Linked DNA regions of Homo sapiens: all the other regions are linked to region 4. Evidence: fine-mapped expression QTL. A gene starts in region 4. Each other region holds a variant in brackets. All regions are shown on one strand. Distances are between the middles of the regions.

Region 1 (5,146 bases), 37 kb before region 4:
CTGCATCATGTGGGCGTGTCCTGCAGGGGGTGCAAAAGACCCGCCCTCCTTAGAGCTGGGGTGCAGCCTGTGATCCAGGTCCTGCGCACTGCAGCCCCTCTGAGGCTCCTGTGTGGAGCCGGGTGTCACAGGGTGTCACAGGCAGTCGCCTTGTGATTTGGGGCCGCAGAGTCCCACCCCGAGCAGCACGGCTGAGGGTCTTTCCAGTGGCCCCAGTGGTCTTCGTTCCTGGCTGATCCTACAAGCCAATATCCCCCACCAATGTATCCCTCCCAGCCTTCTCCTCACCCCACGGGAGGGAAGAAGCATGGCCCCCTCTGAGAAGCTGATGCAAGTTATGAGCAATTTCTGCAGGAAAATACAACGTCAGAAAGTTCACAGACCCCCTGGAGGCCATTCCCGGCCTCCCTGGGGTCCAAGGGAAAAGGAGGACTGATCCAGACAGAGGGAGCCTAAATCACCCAGATCTGGATCCCTAGCTGGGCCCTGAACCAGAGCGGGAGAGGCTACAAAGAATGTCAAGGAGAAACGCAGGCAACAGTGTAGCATCAAGGTTGGTGCAGTGGGTGAGAGTGTAGCATCAAGGTTGGTGCGGTGGGTGAGAGTGTAGCATCAAGGTTGGTGCGGTGGGTGAGAGTGTAGCATCAAGGTTGGTGCGGTGGGTGAGAGTGTAGCATCAAGGTTGGTGCGGTGGGTGAGAGTGTAGCATCAAGGTTGGTGCGGTGGGTGAGAGTGTAGCATCAAGGTCAACACAGGGGGTAGCGTGTTGCATCCCTACTGTGGTTCTGCAGGAGGTTTTCCTTGTGGCAGGAGATACCTGCTGTGCATCAGGCGAAGATGTACAATGCCTGCAACACAGTCTCAGAATGGCCGGGCTCACGCCTGTAATCCCAACACTTTGCGAGGCCGAGGCCAGCAGATCGCCTGAGGTCAGGAGTTGGAGACCAGCCTGGTCAACATGGTGAAACCCCATCTCTATTAAAAATGCAAAATTAGCTGGGCATGCTGGCTCACGCCTGTAATCTCAGCTACCCAGAAGCTGAGGCAGGAGAATCGCTTGAACCCAGGAGGTGGAGGTTGCAGTGAGCCGAAATCATGCCATTGCACTCCAGCCTGGGCAAAAAGTGAAACTCTGTTTCAAAAAAAAAAAAAAGGCTCAGGAATGGAAAGGCAGGGGTGGGGTGGTAAGAAAGGAAGGGAGAGATGGAGGGAAAAAAACAGGAGGAGAAAGGATAGGAAAAAATGTGTTTATGTCTATACCTGGGAAGAGATCGCAAGGGAGGGACAGAGAGAAGGAACACAAATCTATCAAAAAGTTAAAAGCTGATGATTCTATACTGTATGATTCCCTTTATGTGAAGTGTACAAAACAGCAAATCCACAGACAGAAGGCAGAGAGGGCTTCGTGGGGTGGGGGGGAGGGGGGGGTGCATGGTTGGGGGTGATGGCTAAGCGGTTGCAGGGTTTCGTTGGGGGATGATGAAAATGTTCTACAACCAATGTGGTCATAAATGCCCGACCCCGTGAATAGACTAAAAAGCACTGAAGTGTGCACTTTGGGTGAATTGTAGGGTAGGTGAATTACATCTCAAAAAGCTGTCTAAAAAACAAAAACAAAAAAGAAAAAGCACTGGCGAATCTTAGTGAAAGTCATATGGGTAGTCACATGCTATTGCTTCAACTTTTCTGTAAATCTGAAGCTTTCCCAAAATAAAAAGTTGGAGGAGGAAGGAGACAGAATCCAGGTCCAGGGCTGATTTGACCCACTCCCCATTTCAACCAAAGAGGGGCTCCCGAACCTCAGATCTCCGCCGTCACGTGTCCCACTAGCTAGTCCTCCCGCATGGCTCTCGTGGACCCCTGAACCCACGCGGAATCCTATCCTTTCAGCCTGGCCAGCGGCCCCGTCAGGACAGCCGCGTCAGAAGTCTCGGAGGCTGCCGGTATCTCATTTCCTCGTCAGTCTCCCTTTCCTTCCACACGGTCCCCTGGAGTCTGCCGGGAACCATGCTCACACCCTTCCACTCCAACCCAGCCAGACCCTGACAACCACCCCATGAAGCGGCACCAGTGGTCCTGTTTTAGGAAATCAGGGAAGCAAGCTTCAGGGACGTGCCTGGAGTCACCAGTCACAGGCAGAGCTGGGAGGCAAGCCCAGGACTTTAGAAGACATGCTGGGGACCCAGGGATCCTGTGTGGCCATCACACACCTGCTAGAAGCAACACCCCTTCCCTAGAAAAATGAACCTGGCCAGACACAGTTTCAGGGGCTCCTGGACCCCATATGAAGGCTCCTGGGGTACGATGAGTCTCAGAGGACAGGGAGACCAGTCCCTGGCAACCCCTGCATGCCCCTACTCCCCCCCAAGTAAACGCATCCCCTCCCAGAAAGACCTGCGGCAGGGTTCCAGCAATCCTACCTAACGCACTCCTGGGTGAGTCCCTCCACCCACCCACCCCGCCCCGGCATTCCAATCCCCTCAGTTACTCAGGGGGATTGACAGTCCCAGTTGGTAGGGGTTTGAGTTCTCATCCT[G/A]TGCGTGTGCTGGGCTCCAAGCAATCCTGGAGGCAGGCCCCTACACCCCCATTTCACAGGTGAGGAAACTGAGGCACAAAGAAAGACAATCCTAGGAAGCAGGGTCAGCCTCGGTGCCCAGGCCGCCTCTAAAGCTCTCAGCCTGGAGACCACGGGTGAGGAGGTGTCCCCCACCCCACACACAGCACACCAGAGCCCACCTCGGCGGGCGATCTCCGCCTTCAGCAGCCCCTCCATGGCGTCCGACTCGGCCAGGTCCAGGGGCAGGTCCCCGTCACTGTTGACGGCGGCGATGTTGGCCCCGTGGCTCAGGAGGTACCTGGGGGTGGGGGCTGGTCAGGGCTGAGGGTCCAGGCCCCCACCCCGACCAGGTCCTGCCCGGCCCTCCCTTGCCTCACCTGGCGATATCTAGGTAGCCACAGGAGGCGGCCACGTGCAGTGGCGTCCAGCCCTCGTTGTCTGCCTGGTTCACAGTGGCGCCCTGCTCCACCAAGAAGCGCACCACCTCCAGGTTCTCATCAATGCAGGCCTGGGGGTGGGAAACAGCCGTCAGCCGCACCTACCCCAGCCACGGTGTCCCAGCAAGTCGGGACTCCAGAGGGAGCCACGAAAACAGATCCAGGGACACGGTGCTAGGACAGTGGGGAAAATGACCCAACAGCCTCTGGCCACTGGCTGTTTAAGATACGCCTGGTTGCCCAGTGGTCAGGCCGGCCAGGCCTTCAGTGCTCAGTGGAAACCACGAAAGGACTCCTGGCTATCTGCAAACAGGAAGTGAACGGGGAAGGGAGGGGGCTTCTCATCTGGGTGCGGGAACCCCACATGGTACCTGTTAGACACGGCAAAACCCCCGTCACCACCCACAGGTGGCGCTTCCAGTGCTCAGACTAGGGAAGAGGTTCCAGCCCCTCCTCCTTCAGAGCCAGGAGTCCTGGCCCCCAGCCCCTCCTGCCTTAAACCCAGCCAGGTCCTTCCAAGGGTCAAGCTCGGAAACCACCCCAGCAGATACTCTGCAGGAACGAAGCCGTGGGCCCAGGGCTATGCAGGGTGGAGGAAGGCCACCCTGTGCTGGGACAGACTCAGGGGCCTGGGCGGGACTCCCAGAGGGGTGAGACAGCTGCACACCTGTGTGCCTGGGCCCCAGGCTGTCACACTCCAGTTCACTGAGGCCCCCTCTGCACGGGGCCCTGCAGCCAGGGGCTGACACGGGCCACCGTTTCTCATTCTTCCCTTAGGGGTCCAAAACTTGGGGGGACAAAAGCCGAAGTCCAGGGGGTCGGAGGAGGGACTTGCCCCAGGCCTTGTGGACACTGGGTGGGCTCCGGGACCTGAACTGGAGCTGAGGAAGGAGTGAAGCTAAACTCCTAGATCCACGGGATAAATTACCCCCCAAGTCCCTCACCTCTCCAAAGCTGCCCATCTGGAGGAGGCGGGAGGGAGCTACGAGGGCCAAGAGCATGAGGTCATGGAAACTCGGGCTGTGAAGGGGCCGCACGTGCCCTGGGAACGGGATGAACTCGGCTCGTTTATTTCCACCCAGTTGTCATGGCGATAGGGGAGGGGGGCAAGGAGAGCAATGGGCCTTTCCCTTTCAAGGACCTGCCCAGTACAGGCATCCCTGTGAAAGATGCCTGAGGCCTGGGCACCAGGGACTCCAGAGTCCAGGCCCAACCCCTCCCCATTCAACCCAGGAGGCCAGGCCCCAGCCCTTCCGCCCTCAGATGAAGGAGTCCAGGCCCCCAGCCTCTCCCCATTCAGACCCAGGGGTCCAGGCCCAGCCCCGCCTCCCTAAGACCCAGAAGTCCAGGCCCCCAGCCCCTCCTCCCTCAGACCCACGAGTCCAGGCCCCAGCCCCTCCTCCCTCGGACCCAGGAGTCCAGGCCCCCAGTCCCTCCACCCTCAGACCCAGGAGTCCAGGCCCCAGCCCCTCCTCCCTCGGACCCAGGAGTCCAGGCCCCAGCCCCTCCTCTCTCAAACCCAGGAGCCCAGGCCCCCAGCTCTTCTCTGTTCAGCCCTAAGAATCCTGGCTCCAGCCCCTCCTACTCTAGCCCCCAACCCCCTAGCCACTAAGGCAATTGGGGTGCAGGAATGGGGGCAGGGTACCAGCCTCACCAAGTGGTTGATAAACCCACGTGGGGTACCCTAAGAACTTGGGAACAGCCACAGCAGGGGGGCGATGCTTGGGGACCTGCCTGGAGAAGGATGCAGGACGAGAAACACAGCCCCAGGTGGAGAAACTGGCCGGGAATCAAGAGTCACCCAGAGACAGTGACCAACCATCCCTGTTTTCCTAGGACTGAGGGTTTCAGTGCTAAAACTAGGCTGTCCTGGGCAAACAGCATAAGCTGGTCACCCCACACCCAGACCTGACCCAAACCCAGCTCCCCTGCTTCTTGGCCACGTAACCTGAGAAGGGAATCCCTCCTCTCTGAACCCCAGCCCACCCCAATGCTCCAGGCCTCCTGGGATACCCCGAAGAGTGAGTTTGCCAAGCAGTCACCCCACAGTTGGAGGAGAATCCACCCAAAAGGCAGCCTGGTAGACAGGGCTGGGGTGGCCTCTCGTGGGGTCCAGGCCAAGTAGGTGGCCTGGGGCCTCTGGGGGATGCAG
Region 2 (5,146 bases), 260 kb before region 4:
CTGGCTCTGTCACCCAGGCTGGAGTGCAGTGGAGCAATCTCGGCTCATTGAACCTCTTGGGTTCAAGTGATTCTTGTGCCTCAGCCTCCCAAGTAGCTGGAATTACAGGCACATACCACTGCACCCAGCTAATTTTTGTATTTTTAGTAGAGATGGGGTTTCACTGTGTTGGCCAGGCTGGTCTCGAACTCCTGACCTCAGGTGATCCACCCACCTTGGCCTCCCAAAGTGCTGAGATTATAGGCATGAGCCACCACGCCTGGCCAGATGCATGTTCAAACCAATCAAATGGTGTTTTCTTATGCAGGACTGATCGATTTGCACCCACCTTTCTGCACATAAGTTATGGTTTTCCATCTTATCTGTCTTCTGATTTTTTATATCCTGTTTAATTTCTTCCTTCATTGTTCTTCTCTTTTTTTATTTATTTTATTTATTTTTATTTTTATTTTTATTTGAGACAGAGTCTCACTCTGTTGCCCAGGCTGGAGTGCAGTGGCACGATCTCGGCTCACTGCAACCTCTGCCTCCTGGGTTCAAGTGATTCTCCTGCCTCGGCCTCCCAAGTAGCTGGGATTGCAGGCTCCCACCATCACGCCCAGCTACTTTTACAGTATTTTTAGTAGAGACGGGGTTTCATCACATTGGCCAAGCTGGTCTCAAACTTCTGACCTCGTGATCTGCCCGCCTCGGCCTCCCAAAGTGCTGGGATTACAGATGTGAGCCACTGCGCCCAGCCTTCTTTTTATATTTTTAAATGTGTCTTCCCCAAATATAAATGGTTGGTAAGCATGCCAAATATATTCAATAACCCCCCTCCTTTATTTTTTTTTGTTGAAGTGAGGCTCTCCCTATGTTGCCTAAGCTGGTCTTGAACTCCTGGTCTCAAGCAATCCTCCTACCTCAGCCTCCTGCTGTGTTCATCTACAAATTGATAAGAGTGAAAGTCATAATCCTACAGGAGGATTACCCTATTTATTTCACAAACCCTATTTCTACCGGATTTTCATACAAGGAATACAGGCATGTGTTTCACCTCATTAATTTATTTTTTCACTTAGTTTTGATGATATTCACATATATTATCAAGTGTGCAAACATTAAATTCTTGTGTACAAAACTCAAATGGTCTTCCAAATAATTCCCCATTCTTTTTTCTTATAAACTTTCACAGCTTTACCCTTGACAGACTTTACTCAAGGAAATCTAAGTTGGTCATATGTGGCTCTTTCACTGATTGCTATTTACTTCATTGTCCAGTAGCTTATGTATGAAAATATAATTATAAAATGTAAGGGTCCTACTTCCAGTGAAACTGAAGGGACTTAGGCCCACTTTTATCCTTTACTGAGAGCTTATCTCTACTTGATAAAATTTCTACTGTATTCTTGGCTTAACTCAGGTCCTGTGATTAAAAAAAAAATGCAAAGTATTTCTAACTTTCTTTATTGACTGCTTTTCACACTTTATACAAGTTCTGGCCCATATCTTCAGTTTGTTCTGATTTTTTTCACCAGGTGTGGTGGCAGGTGCCTGTAGTCCCAGCTACTCCAGGGGCTGAGGCAGGAGAATGGCGTGAACCTGGGAGGCGGGGCTTGCAATGAGCTGAGATCACGCCACTACACTCCAGCCTGGGCCACAGAGCGAGACTCCGTCTCAAAAGTAAACAAACAAATAAATAATAAATAAATAAATAAAGGGAAAGTGCCACAATTTTGGATGAAGGGGGTTGAGGGACTTTACGTCAGGTCCAGGACTTGGATTACAGAGACACAATGGGGCTAGATTCCCAGAGATGGATAAGATTAAACTCATATAAGTCGTTTTGCTGACAGAAGGACCTTGTTTGGAAAAAGCGTTTTCAGAATAATAAAGTTCCTGAGCTCTTCAGAAAAGTATTTTATTGTCCTGTAACCACAGTAACAAGTAGCCACCAAAACTGATTTTTAACCCATCATCAATGACAACTCATCTCTGTGAAGATGCTCTTTTTTTTTTTTTTTTTTTTTGAGACGGGGTCTTGCTCTGTCACCCAGGCTGGGGAGCAGTGACGTGACCTCGGCTCCCTGCAACCTCTCTTTCCCGGGTTCAGCAATTCTCCTGCCTCAGCCTCCCCAGTAGCTGGGATTATAGGCACCTGCCACCACACGCAGATAATTTTTGTATTTTTAGTACAGACGGGTTTCGCCATGTTGGCCAAGCTGGTCACAAACTTCTGACCTCAGGGTGATCTGCCTGCCTCAGCCTCTCAAAGTGCTGGGATTACAGGAGTGAGCCACAAAGCCCGGCCACTCCATACGTTTTATATTGTTATGTTACCATCAGTCAGGCAGCTCCTTGCTTCTAAAAGTCATCCAATCAGACTCATTTCAGTAAACACCCAAGCATGAGTGACAACCAATCAAAGTAATATCTTCCCAATGACCACACTTTTCCAGATGACGTCAAGCCACAGAAGGCCCTGAAAATCCAACAATCTCTGAAGTATACATTTCCCAGGCTGAGCGCAGTGGCTCACACCTGAAATCCCAGCACTTTGGGAGGCTAAGGCAGGCAGATCACGAGGCCAGGAGTTCGAGACCAGCCTGGCCAACATGGCAAAACCCCGTCTCTACTAAAAATACAAAAATTAGCCAGGTGTGGTGGCACGCACCTGCATTACCAGCTACTGAGGAGGCTGAGGCAGGAGAATGGCTTGAACCCAGGAGGCGGAGGTTGCAGTGAGCCAAGATCGTACCACCGCACTCCAGCCTTGGTGACAGAGCAAGACTCCATCTCAACAACAACAACAAAAATGGTTGAAATAAAACTTCTATGTGTTGAACGATTCCTCTTTTAGGCATAGAGTTTCAGTTTTACAAGATGAAAATATTCTGGAGATCTGTTTCAAAACACCGTGAATACATTTAACACTGCTATACTGTACACTTACAATGGCTAAGATGGTAAATTGTATGTTATGTTTTTACTACAATTTTTTTTTTTTTTTTTCTGAGACAGAGTCTCACTCTTGTTGCCCAGGCTGGAGTGCAATGGTGCGGTCTCGGCTCACCGCAACCTCCGCCTCCTGGGCTCAAGCCATTCTCCTGC[C/T]TCAGCCTCCAGAGCAGCTGGGATTACAGGCATGCGCCACCACGCCTGGCTAATTTTATATTTTTAGAAGAGACGGGGTTTCTCCATGTTGGTCAGGCTGGTCTCGAACTCTGGACCTCAGGTGATCCACCCGCCTTGGCCTCCCAAAGTGCTGGGATCACAGGCGTGAGCCACCACGCCTGGCCTACAATTTTTTTTTAACTTTTTTTTCTGAGATGGAGTCTCGCTCTTGTCACCCAAGTTGGAGTGCAGTAGTGTGATCTCGGCTCACTGCAACCTCTGCCTCCCTGGTTCAAGGGATTCTCCTGCCTCAACCTCCCAAGTGTGGGAGATCAGTCAGAGTAGCAGAAGAAATTATAGGAATAGGAAGCAGCAAACCTTCTTGGAAGGCCAGGGAGGTTGGCATAGCTTCAGATAGTTTGGCTGAAAGCAGCCAGATTCTCTTTTCAGGAGCCAAACAGCTTAGGGCGCAGATACAAAGGAATGCGGAGTATTTTATCTAAATAGCTTGCTTAGTCATATGGTCCTAAAATCAACCTTTGATCATTCTCGGGCAAGATGGCCCTCTCCAGGGAGGTGGCGGGGGGCGGTGACCAGGTTAATTACCCACAGGTGTGTTGACTCAAAGCCTTTGTTAATTAAATCTGTGCTAAATAAATGCAAGCGTTGCCAGCTTAGAGGGGCTGCACTCTCTTTGGCTCCTAGTGCCGGCAGCCCCCTGGCCTGCTCTTTCACTGAATATTGGTGTCTGAGGACGTGTCTCATCTGTCGTACAGCTGGGATCTGCAGAACAGATCCCCCCCGCACCCAAGAAGCTGGGATTACAGGCACCCGCCGCCATGCCCAGCTCATTTTTGTATTTTTAGTAGAGACAGGGTTTCACCATGTTGGTCAGGCCGGTCTCGAACTCCCGGCCTCAGGTGATCTGCCCGCCTCAGCCTCCCAAAAGTGCTTGGATTACAGGCATGAGCCACTGCGCCTGGCCTTAGAAAACTTCTTTTTCTTTTTTTTTTTTTTTTTTTTTTGAGACAGAGTTTCACTCTGTCGCTACGCTGGTGTGATCTGGGCTCACTGCAATCTCCGCCTCCCAGGTTCAAGTGATTCCCCTGCCTCAGCCTCCCGAGTAGCTGGAACTACAGGTGCGCACCGCCACGCCCGGCTAATTTCTTGTATTTTCGTGGAGACGGGGTTTCACCATGTTGGCTAGGCTGGTCTGTTTCATGCGCGTCCGTGTGAAGAGACCACCAAACAGGCTCTGTGTGAGCAACAAGGCTGTTTATTTCACCTGGGTGCAGGCAGGCTGAGTCCGACAAGAGAGTCAGCGAAGGGGGATAGGGGTGGGGCCGTTTTATAGGATTTGGGTAGGTAAAGGAAAATTACAGTCAAAGGGGGGTTGTTCTTTGGTGGGCAGGAGTGGGGGGTCACAAGGTGCTCAGTAGGGGAGCTTTTGAGTCAGGATGAACCAGAAGAAGGAATTTCACAAGATAATGTCATCAGTTAAGGCAGGAACAGGCCATTTTCATTTCTTTCGTGGTGGAATGTCATCAGTTAAGGCAGGAACCGGCCATCTGGATGTGTACGTGCAGGTCACAGGGGATATGATGGCTTAGCTTGGGCTCAGAGGCCTGACATTCCTGTCTTCTTATATTAATAAGAAAAATAAAACGAAATAGTGGTAAAGTGTTGGGATGGCGAAAATTTTGGGGGGTGGTATGGAGAGAGAATGGGCGATGTTTCTCAGGGCTGCTTCGAGCGGGATTAGGGGCGGCGTGGGAACCTAGAGTGGGAGAGATTAAGCTGAAGGAAGATTTTGTGGTAAGGGGTGATATTGTGGGATTGTTAGAAGAAACATTTTTCATTTAGAATTACTGGTGATGGCCTGGATGCAGTTTTGTATGAATTGAAAAACTAAATGGAATAAGGAAAGGAGAAAAACAGGTATTAAAGGTCTAAGAATTGGGAGGACCTAGGACATCTAATTAGAGAGTGCCTAAGGAGGTTCAGCATAGCCTTGCCAGCAAAGATTATTTATTTACTTCAAGAGTTAAGAGTGGTG
Region 3 (5,146 bases), 45 kb before region 4:
TCAGCTCAGGGATGGGCCCAGTCAGCAACAGAGCTGGGACTTGGCCAGACACTGAGGTCCAGGGGCTCTGCTTCAGCAGGTGCTAAGCAGAAGGGACAGCGGTCTGGAGCTGTTACGGGTGCTAGGCCGAAGGGACAGCGGCCTGGAGCTGTTACAGGTGCTAAGCCGAAGGGACAGCGGCCTGGAGCGGTTAGAGGCATCTTATGTACCTCACCGAGAAAACCTGACTAAAAACTGTCAACATAGAGATGAGCAGAGACAGGGAGGAATTCATGTTAACTTCATTTTTATACTAAATAATAAAGTATATGATCACAAAAGAGAGAAGAGGGAACTGAAAAAAGAATGAGGAGCCTGAGGATGAGAACTGGAACCAACAACTTTAATAGAAAGGGGAAAGGCAGCCAAATAGGAACAAAATCTAAGACTGAGGTGAGGATGACAGAAAGGGAATGTGTACTAGAACAATTTAAACTATATATGCACCTTGGTTGGGTGCAGTGGCTCACGCCTGTAACCCCAGCATTTTGGAAGACTGAGGCAGGGAGATTACCTGAGGTCAGGAGTTCAAGAGCAACCTGGCCAACATGGAGAAACCCCATCTCTGCTAGAAATACGAGTTAGCCAAGTGTGGTGGCACACTCTCATAGTCACAGCTCCTGGGGAGGCTGAGGCAGGAGAATTCCTTGAACCCAGGAGGTGGAGGTTGCAGTGAGCTATGATCACACCACTGCACTCCAGCCTAGGTGACAGAGCGAGACTCCGTCTCAAAAACAAACAAAAATAAACTATATATGCACCAAATAATCTAGTCTTAAAATATATACAAATTGTAACTGACAGAACTATAAGAAGAAACAAAGTCCATAATCACAGCAAGAATTTAAATGCACCTCTCATAGTAACTGACAGAATAAGCAGTGGGTGAAATATCACTAAAGATAAAGAAGCACTACAAATAAAACAGCATGATTACAAGGTTGACCTAATAACCTACAGAGAACACTGTACCTGATGACACCATTCTTTTCCGACTTACATGTACTGGGGTATATAAGGTAAAACGATACATTTCAAAAGCTAGAATCATATGGAACCCATTCTCTGACCACAATGCAATTAAGCCAGGAAAATAGTAACAAAATGATGACTAGAAGTCCTATATATTTTGAAATTAGGCCAAGCACAGTGGCTTACACCTGTAATCCCAGCACTTTGGGAGGCTGAGGTAGGAGGATCACTTGAGCCCAGGAGTTCGAGACAAGCCTGGGCCACATGGTGAAACCCCATCTCTACAAAAATTAGCGGGGCATGGTGGTGTGCGCCTGTAGTCCCCACTATTCAGGAGGCTGAGGTAGGAGGATCACCTGAGCCTGGGGAGTTTGAGGCTGCAGTGAGCCACGACTGTGCCACTGCACTCCAGCCTGGGTGACATAGCAAGACCCTGTCTCAAAATAAATAAATAATAAAAGATTACAAATTGGGAAATATTTTACACTGAATGACAATAAAAAAAAGACTGCACATCAAAACTTGTGGGTACAGCTAAGGCTGTATTTAGAGGGAAATACATAGCCTTCGGTACATACATTTAAAAAGAAAGGGAAAGGACAAGATCCACAGGAAGGTATAAGACAGCAAGATGGAACAGACTGGCCCAACTCACCTCATCACCTCAATGTAGCCCTTGGCAGCAGCCACGTGCAGGGCAGAGGCGCCTGTGCGGGGGTGCCGGGCCTCTGGCATGGCGCCCCCATTCAGCCAGCACCTCGTGTCATGAAGGAGCAATTCCTCTTCTGCCCGCTTGGCTGCTTCCACATCCACACCTAGGAGGATAAGAGGCACGAGGTAGGACTCACACCCCATGACCTGAAATACCCAGGGTCATACACTGGGCTGGCCAGGGTTCAGCCCAGTGACTTGCCCAGAGCTCTTCCCCCTGCTCCCCTCTGAGACTCAGGAGGCCCAGACTAGCCCAGTTGTTTCCCAACTGTACTCCATGCAGTCGTGTGTCCCACTCAGGGTCTCTGAGTCAGCGCTAAGCACTGGGAAAACGGAGATCACAGGCCTTTCCCCATTTCAACCAGAAATTCACCGTATTTTTATTATTTTTAATATAAAACCATGGCCGGGTGCAGTGGCTCATGCCTGCAATCCCAGCAACTTTGAGAGGCCAAGGCAGGTGGATCACGAGCTCAGGACTTCAAGACCAGCCTGGCCAACACAGTGAAACCCCATCTCTACTAAAACTACAAAAAAAAAAAAAAAAATTTAGCCAGGTGTGGTGGCAGGTGGCTGTAGTCCCAGCTACTTGGGAGGCTGAGGCAGGAGAATCGCTTGAACCCGGGAGTTGGAGGTTGCAGTGAGCTGAGATCACGCCACTGCACTCCAGCCTGGGCAACACAGTGAGACTCTGTCTAAAAAAAAAAAAAAAAAAGTATATATATATATATA[T/TAC]ATACACACACACACACATACAAAAATATAAATATAAAAAATATTTATATATATAATATATATATAACATATATATGCATCTCCTATATATATAACACCTATATATACACATTTCCTATATATATAAAACCTATATATATATCTCTCCTATATATGTAACATATATAGACAGAAGTGGTAATGGTGATAAAATGTATGAAGATGCTGGATTAAGATTATATTGGGGGGTGGCACAACGGCTCATGCCTGTAATCCCAACACTTTGGGAGACCAAGGTGGGCAGATCACCTGAGGTCAAGAGTTCGAGACCAGCCTGCCCAACGTGTTGAAACCGTGTCTCTCCTAAAAATACCAAAATTAGCTCAGCATGGTGACTTATGCCTGTAATCCCAGTTACTTGGGAGGCTGAGGCGGAAGGATCTCTTGAATCTTGGAGGCGGAAGTTGCAGTGAGATTGCACCACTGCACTCCAGCCTGGGTGATAGAGTGAGACTCCGTCTCCAAAAAAAAAAAAAATTATATTGGTAGTGACAGGAAAAGTTAGATGTAATTGAGCACTGGATTTGCTCAGTAAACTTTAGGCCATATATATATATATATGGTCTCGCTCTGTCACCCAGGCTGGAGTGCAGTGGCATGATCTTGGCTCACTGCAACTTCTGCCTCCCAGGTTCAAGCGGTTCTCCTGCCTCAGCTTCTTGAGTAGCTGGGATTACAGGCACACGCCACCACACCCAGCTAACTTTTGTATTTTTAATAGAGATGGGGTTTCATCATGTTGGCCAGGCTGGTCTTGAACTCCTGACCTCATGATCCACCCGCCTCGGCCTCCCAAAGTGCTGAAATTACAGGCAGGAGCCACCGCATCTGACCCTTTTTTTTTTTTTGAGACAGGACCTCACACTGTCACCCAGGCTGGAGTACAGTGGTGCAATTATGGCTCACTGAAGCCTCAAATTCCCAGGCTCAAGGGATCCTCCTGCCTTGGCCTCCCAAAGCCGGCATGAGCCACCACACCTGGCTGTGTCATTTCTTTAAAGGAGTCACCAACTGTTCAATCCTATTATAGCCGAATGGGTCTCAATTCAGGGAGGGGAAGGGAGGGTGACTGGCTTTTTATTCAACCACAGTCAGCGCCCTCTGCATGTCTGCTGCACATCCTTCTGCAATTTGCTTCTTGTGTTCAACATGTTGCTGAGATCTGTCTGTATCTGTAGACAGAGCCCTTGCCCAGGGGTCAGAAAGCTATAGCTTGTGGGTGTTGACCACCTGTTGTGTTTTCTTTATCTTTTGTTGTGGTGGTGGTGGTAAAATAAACAACATAAAATTTACCAACTTCCCTGTTTTAAAGTGCACAATTCAGTGGCATTTAGGATACCTCCAATATTATGCAACCATCACCACTATCTACTTCCTGAGCTTTTTCATGATCCCAAATGGATACTGTATCCAAGAAGAAGTCACTCCCAGCCAGGCACCATGGCTCATGCCTGTAATCCCAGTACTTTGGGAGGCCAAGATGGGAGATCACTTGAGCCCACTAGTTTGAGAACAGCCTGAGCAACATAGGGAGACCTTGTCTCTAGAAAAATAAAATTAGCTGGGCATGGTGGTGCACACCTATGGTCTCAGCTACTTGGGAGGCTGAGATGGAAGGATCACTTGGGCCCACGAGGTCAAGGCTGCAGTGAGCCATTATCACTCCACCGCACTCCAGCCTGGGAGGCAGCGTGAGATCCTGTCTTAAAAAAAAAAAAAAAGTCACTTCTCAGACCTCCCTCTCCGCCAGCCCCTTGCACCCAGCAATCTTTCTGTCCCTGTGGATTTGCCTATTCTGAAAGGCGATTTTTGTCAATAAACGTGGGATGGAACAGTCATTCCCATTCATTCACACACCATCCCTAGCAGTCTCCCGCTCCACAGCACTAGTGGAATAGTGGTGCCAGGCATGGTGTGTCCCGCAACACCTGAAACATTCATTGTCTAGCCCTTTACAGAGAAAGTTTGCTGACCCCTGCTTAGATCACTCATTTAGAGTTTAGTGATTGATCCATCCTCTTTGGTGTGGGCTCCGACCTCTTACTACTGCAAACAATACTATGATGAACATCTGCCCATGGTTGGGAAGGCCTCTCTCGGGCTGCCCAGGAGTGGAACTGCTAGAACAAGGCAAAGCTGGGGCCTTCGGCTATAATCCATGCTGACCAACCACTTCCCAAAGTAGCTGGAATCATCACCTTTCCCACCAGGCAGAAATCAGCTCCCGTGTCCGCCCTTGTCAGCACTTGGAGCTATCCAATGGTCGATTCCGCCTGCCTCCAAGGGTAACTCCCCCTCTTCCAGCTGACTTGGATGCTGGAATTCCAAGTGAGCTGGCTTCAAATGTTTCAAAAACACATCATGTCTTCTTCCTGCCAGTTCCATGCCCCTGTGCAAAGTGGCCAGGGAGGGTCCCTTCTGCACAGGACATGGTGCTGCTGCGTGTCCCTGCAGCACAGCTGCTGCTTGGGCCTACGAAAATCCATTCTCCCTTCCCCTGTGACCTCATCTTGACTTTCCTCACCCACACTTTGCCCCATATGGTTTCAATGTGACCGGGCCCATAGCCTGGCTCCAGGGTGCGCACATCACCAGGCCTTCCTGTCACCTTTGCAACAGTGATGGGCTCAGGAGCTGCCATCTGACCAAGGTG
Region 4 (5,122 bases):
CGGAGTCCGGGACCTCACCTTCCTCCTCCTCCTCCGCAGCCTCCTCTGGAGATGGGGGCACAGAAGAGAAGGCGTTAGGAGCTGGGGGAGGGATGGGGGCGGTGGCCAGAGACCAGGGTTCCAGTCTCTGCTGGACGGGGGTCCCTCTGGCCTCGGCTGCGATGGGCACGTTCCCCCTGGCGGTGCAGGGATGGCGCGAGGAGACGCTCCAGACCCGGAGAGGGCGGGCGAGGGCCCGAGGGCTGAGCCGCCCCTTCCCCGCCAAAGTGCCACACTCCTCGCCTCCCCTCCCAAGAGCTCCTGGGCGTGTCCCCATCCCATAGGGCCGGCCCACTCCCTACTCACCTTCCGGCTGCTCCCTGCGGACGGGTGTGGGGAGAGAGGAGGGAGGGGAGAGTTAGACCTGGGGTGGGAGAGCCTCTCCACCACTGCACGCCCCAACCCCTCCCAGTGCAGCACTCACTCCTCATATTCCTGCTCCTCGGTGTCCGACATCCTGGTGCGGCCTAAGGACCAGAGAGAAGAGGCCCAGTGGGGTGGGGCCCCAAGGAGGGGGCGACCTAGACTCCTGGGTGTGAGGGAGGAGGGGCTGGGGGCCTGGACTCCTGGGTCTGGACTCCTGGGTGTGAGAGAGGAGGAGCTGGGGTCTGGACTCCTGGGTGTGAGAGAGGAGGAGCTGGGGCCTGGACTCCTGGGTCTGAGGAAGGAGGGGCTGGGGGCCTGGACTCCTGGGTCTGAGGGAGGAGGGGCTGGGGTCTGGACTCCTGGGTCTGAGGGAGGAGGAGCTGGGGCCTGGACTCCTGGGTCTGAGGAAGGAGGGGCTGGGGCCTGGACTTCTGGGTCTGAGGGAGGAGGGACTGGGGTCCTGAACTCCTGGATCTGAGGGAGGAGGGGCTGGGGGCCGGATTCCTGGGTCTGAGGGAGGAGGGGCTGGGGGGTGTGTGGGAGGGTGGGTGTGGACTCCTGAGACTGAGATGGGTTGTCCTGGACACCTGGGTCTGAGGGAGGAGGGGCTGGGGTCTGGACTCCTGGATCTGAGGGAGGAGGGGCCAGGGGCCTGGACGCCTGGGTCTGAGGGAGGAGGGGCCGCGGGCCTGGACGCCTGGGTCTGAGGGAGGAGGGTCTGGGGGCCTGGCCTCCTGGGTCTGAGGGAGGAGGAGCTGGGGCCTGGACTCCTGGATCTAAGGGAGGAGAGGCTGGGAGTCTAGACTCCTGAGTCTGAGGGAGGAGCGGGCTGGGGGCCTGTACTCCTGCGTCTGAGGGAGGAGGGCTCAGGTCTGGACTCTTGGGTCTGAGGGAGGGGGCCGGCTGTCCTAAAGCATGCATGAGGACAGACCTTGGTAGGTGTGGTCCTGGCACAGCCAGGAGGCTGCAGACCCTGCCCCCTCAGCACAGCTGTCCTCTTTTGTCTTATGACAAGTCCATGGGAACCTGATCCAGTTGGGATTAGGAAGAGGCATTTGAGAAGGGACAGTGGCCTGAAGACAATAGCTGCCCCACCCCCAGGAGCTATTTTGGGGGGATGTCATAGATGGTGAAACCGAGGACATTTCCTAAGAAGGGATTTGAGGAAGGGGGGCTTCTGGGAGAATTAGTCACCCGCATCCCCTCTCCCACTCGCCCCACCCCACTGGCTGGTTTCCTCCCCACCTGTCTCCCCTTTCACCTTCCCATACATCACGTAGGGGGCAGGGGCATAAAGGGCACCTTCTGTCCGTAGACCTCACCCTGACCCCTACATTCTTAGACCTCAAAGTCTTTGAGACACCCTAGGCCACAGGGTGCCTAGCCCCAAATCCCAATACCCACAGATTCTGAGACCCCGATTTATGATGCCCGTGTTTCTGAGGCCAGCAAGTCCTCACAGCTCTGGATTCTGAAATCCCAGTTCTTGATAGTCCAGATATGGGCCGGGACATCCTAAGACCACCCCCAGGTCTTGAGACCTCCTAAAATCTGAAACCTCAAGAATATGAGACCCCCAAAATCTTGATACCCAAACTCGGAGGCCCAGTTCATGATACCCCAGATAATGGCACTCTAAGTTTTCATGCTTTCTATCATAATGTCTCAGATTCCGAGCCCTCCACTACCAAAACCCCAATTTCTTCTGAGACCCCCCCAATTCCTGATACCCTCAGAGTCTGAGGCCCCAAATCCTGACACCCAGATTGTTTGACCTCCAAGTCCAGATATCCCTGACTGCTGAGATTTCCCCCAGATTCCCAGAACCCCAAGATCCTAGGAGGTTTTATTCTGGGACATCCAAGTCCTGGCAGCCCCGGGTTAGGATTTGTGTAACCCACAAATCCTAGTATTTTCCCCTCTATCCTGAGTCCCCCTAAAGTCTGAGCCTCTCAAGTTCCCAGACCTCCAGTTGTATGCCCCACCTACCTCTGCACCATTTCTCCACACCCGACATCTTCCCCACCTGCCTCCTGCCCCCTCCCCCAAGGACATGGTTTTTGAAGACCACAGGGCTCCGCAGAGCCCCTTACCTAGGCTGTGTCTGAGATGCTGTGAATCTTGAGGCTGAGCCTTGCTGAGGGCACTGAAGCTCCGGGGAGTTTATAGCTGGAGGCTCGGGCCCGCCCCGAGGGGAGAGGGAGGGGGAGAGAATTCCTTTGCTCAAACACAAGCCTGGGAGTTCAGAGACAGCCCTGCTGCCCCTGGCTCCACACTCAGAGTCCAGAAGCCTCCGTGGGCCCCTCCCCAACCCCATGCCAACCCCATCTGCATGGCCCAGGAGCCCCGCCCCTGCTCCCACCCCACACCCCAGGCTCCCGTGGTGCTCCAACTACCTCCCTTATAGCTCCCTGTGCTTTGACGTCCCCATGCCCGGCACACAGTAGGTCCTTGGAGGACCTACTAATGACACATGGGCTATAAGGAATGTTTCCTGTTTTCTTCTCTCTGTTCCCTCTTTCTATCTAGGTCTCTTTCTGGACCCCCATTTCTGTTGTCTCTGTGGCTCTCCATCTGTGTGTCTCTGTGTGTCTGTCTCTACTTCTTAGTCTCCTCCTCTGTCTCTGTCCATCTTTTTGTCTCCTCCTCCCACCCCCACCCCTTTGTCTGCCGCCAGGATTCCATCCTGGTGACAACAGGCACTAAAGCCGGGAAGCAGGTGTGGGGAGGGGGAGGGGGAGGGTGGGGTGTCAATTAGGGTGAAACCTACCCTCCCTCCCCACCTCCATCTAACGCTGATCTTTTTTGGTATCCCCCTCCCGCTTCCCAGCCAAGCCATGACCTTGAGTTCTAGGTTCAAGCCAGCCCTGGAGAGCAGGCTTCCTCACCCTCCCCGCCTCTCCGTACCTCTGTCTCTGGTGGTCTCGGTCTTTGTGTTTCTGTGCATTTCTCGGGGCCCCTTGCTGGGTCTGTCTTGGGCTCTCTCTGCATCTGTCGCTTTCTGAGCCCCTCAGTGTGTTTCTCGGCATGTGTCTCCGGGTGGTTTTGTCTCTGCATTTCTGTGGGTGTCTCTGCATGTCTGCCCCTCTCAGCGTTTGTGTCTGTGGGGGCTCACAGTCTCTCTGTGCATTTCTGTCCACCTATGACCCCATTTCTGTCTCTTTTTGGCTCTGGGTCTCTGTGTCTGTGTTCACGTCTCTATCTTTCTAGTTCTCTCCATGTCTCTCTTAGTGCCCGCAGTTCCCCCTCTGTGGCTCTCCATTTCCATCTCTTATAGGGTCTCCATGTCTCTGCACCTTGCTGTGAGTATATCTCTGTCTCTCTTTTCTCCTTTCTTTGCACTTCCTTCTATGCATCTTGTGGTATTTTCTCCCTCTCTCTTTGGGTCTTTGCCTGGCTCCTACTCTCTCTACTCCCAACTCAGTCTCTCTGTTGTCGGTCATGTCTCTCTGCCTGTCTGTTTCTCTGTGTCTCTCTCTCTTTGACCTTTAGTCTTGGCATCTCTGTGCACTCCACATGGGCCAGAGGAGCTGTGACAATAGAGATCAGAAGACTGATGGAATGAACTGTTTGTGGCAATAAGATACCAAATTATAAACAAGACCTAAGGCCATGCCAGGCAAGGGTTAAGCCACGCATCCCTACACTTATATAATCGACTATGTTCCAACTGCCACAAGGCTTTTCCTTTTTCTAGCAGCTAAACAAGCACCGGCCTCAAGATAAGCAATATTACAACCATTGCAGCCATCCATTGCCAGATGCTGACTAGCTGAACCCCCTGTTCCACAAGGCATAACTACAGCATTAGTTGAACAAGAGACTGATTTCAGTAACTTTCTCCTGATAAGATGCCGCAGACCACGGACTGGTTCTGGCTGTTGACAGAGGCTGTGCACTGAGTGTCTTCATATCCCTGCTTCGTGTTTCGATACGAATGCATTCAATGGAATGCACTTAAATGTTAAGCCTCCACCACCAAGTGAAGGTGGGATGCATGTAAAATGTGTTTGCGGCCAGTCGCGGTGGCTCACGCCTGTAATCCCAGCACTTTGGGAGGCCAAGGAGGGCGGATCACGAGGTCAGGAAATCGAGACCAGCCTGGCCAACATGGTGAAACCCCGTCTCTACGAAAAACACAAAAATTAGCTGGGCGTGGTGGTGCATGCCTGTAATCCCAGCTACTGGAGAGGCTGAGGCAGGAGAATGGCTTGAACCCAGGACGCAGAGGTTGCAGTGAGCTGAGATCGTGCCACTGCACTCCAGCCTGGGTGACAGAGCAAGACTCCGTCTCAAAAAAAAAAAAAAATGAGTGTTTGCTTGTCACACATGCGTGTGTCCATGTGTCCACCTGTCCATGAATATTCATAGCTCCTTCTATAACCAGTTGAATACGTGCACTTAGCTAACCCACTCAGCATAAATTCCTGCCTTGCCCTTCCCTCCCTTAAAGTGCCTGCTTTTGTTTTTTGGCAAGAAGCCATGCTTCTGGTCTTCAGGTTGTGATCCGCTTCTTAAGAAACAAAGCTCCGCTCTCCAAATTCATGAACCCCGGGATTCTTTTCAATAACACAGCCAAGAGTGCTTCACATGGGAGACCCATCTGGTCCCCAACCTGCTGTGTGGCTTTGGGGGAGCCCCACCTGCAGTCTTCCCATCTGTCTCCTGCCTAAGCCCTGGGTAATAGACATGGAGTCACTTTCAGCTCAGAGAGAAG

What was found. PIP is the estimated chance that this variant, and not a neighbour inherited with it, causes the effect.
Region 1: its variant is the best candidate, but not a certain one, in a credible set for the expression of TNNT1 in whole blood (INTERVAL, PIP 0.68).
Region 2: its variant is the best candidate, but not a certain one, in a credible set for the expression of TNNT1 in whole blood (TOPMed, PIP 0.51).
Region 3: its variant is the best candidate, but not a certain one, in a credible set for the expression of TNNT1 in monocytes after R848 (Quach 2016, PIP 0.64).

Annotation. Positions count from the first base shown.
Region 1 is chr19:55,109,731-55,114,876 of GRCh38, forward strand. It overlaps PPP1R12C (protein phosphatase 1 regulatory subunit 12C), which reads right to left. Exons shown (of 22, transcript NM_017607.4): 2 at 2,935-3,065; 3 at 2,737-2,855. Among named protein-coding and RNA genes, the nearest start is that of PPP1R12C, 5.3 kb to the right of the region's middle. RefSeq lists enhancers at 3,457-3,586, 3,498-4,124, 4,125-4,751. The variant G/A (reference allele first, on the strand shown) is at 2,537.
Region 2 is chr19:54,889,989-54,895,134 of GRCh38, forward strand. FCAR (Fc alpha receptor) reads left to right here. Exons shown (of 5, transcript NM_002000.4): 5 at 1-1,432. Among named protein-coding and RNA genes, the nearest start is that of NCR1, 14 kb to the right of the region's middle. RefSeq lists enhancers at 2,651-3,401, 3,402-4,154. The variant C/T (reference allele first, on the strand shown) is at 3,091.
Region 3 is chr19:55,101,743-55,106,888 of GRCh38, forward strand. It overlaps PPP1R12C (protein phosphatase 1 regulatory subunit 12C), which reads right to left. Exons shown (of 22, transcript NM_017607.4): 4 at 1,667-1,826. Among named protein-coding and RNA genes, the nearest start is that of PPP1R12C, 13 kb to the right of the region's middle. The variant T/TAC (reference allele first, on the strand shown) is at 2,455.
Region 4 is chr19:55,146,663-55,151,784 of GRCh38, forward strand. TNNT1 (troponin T1, slow skeletal type) reads right to left here and starts at 2,544. Exons shown (of 14, transcript NM_003283.6): 1 at 2,499-2,544; 2 at 464-506; 3 at 346-359; 4 at 19-45. The coding sequence starts at 495. It overlaps TNNI3 (troponin I3, cardiac type), which reads right to left. Exons shown (of 8, transcript NM_000363.5): 8 at 5,105-5,122.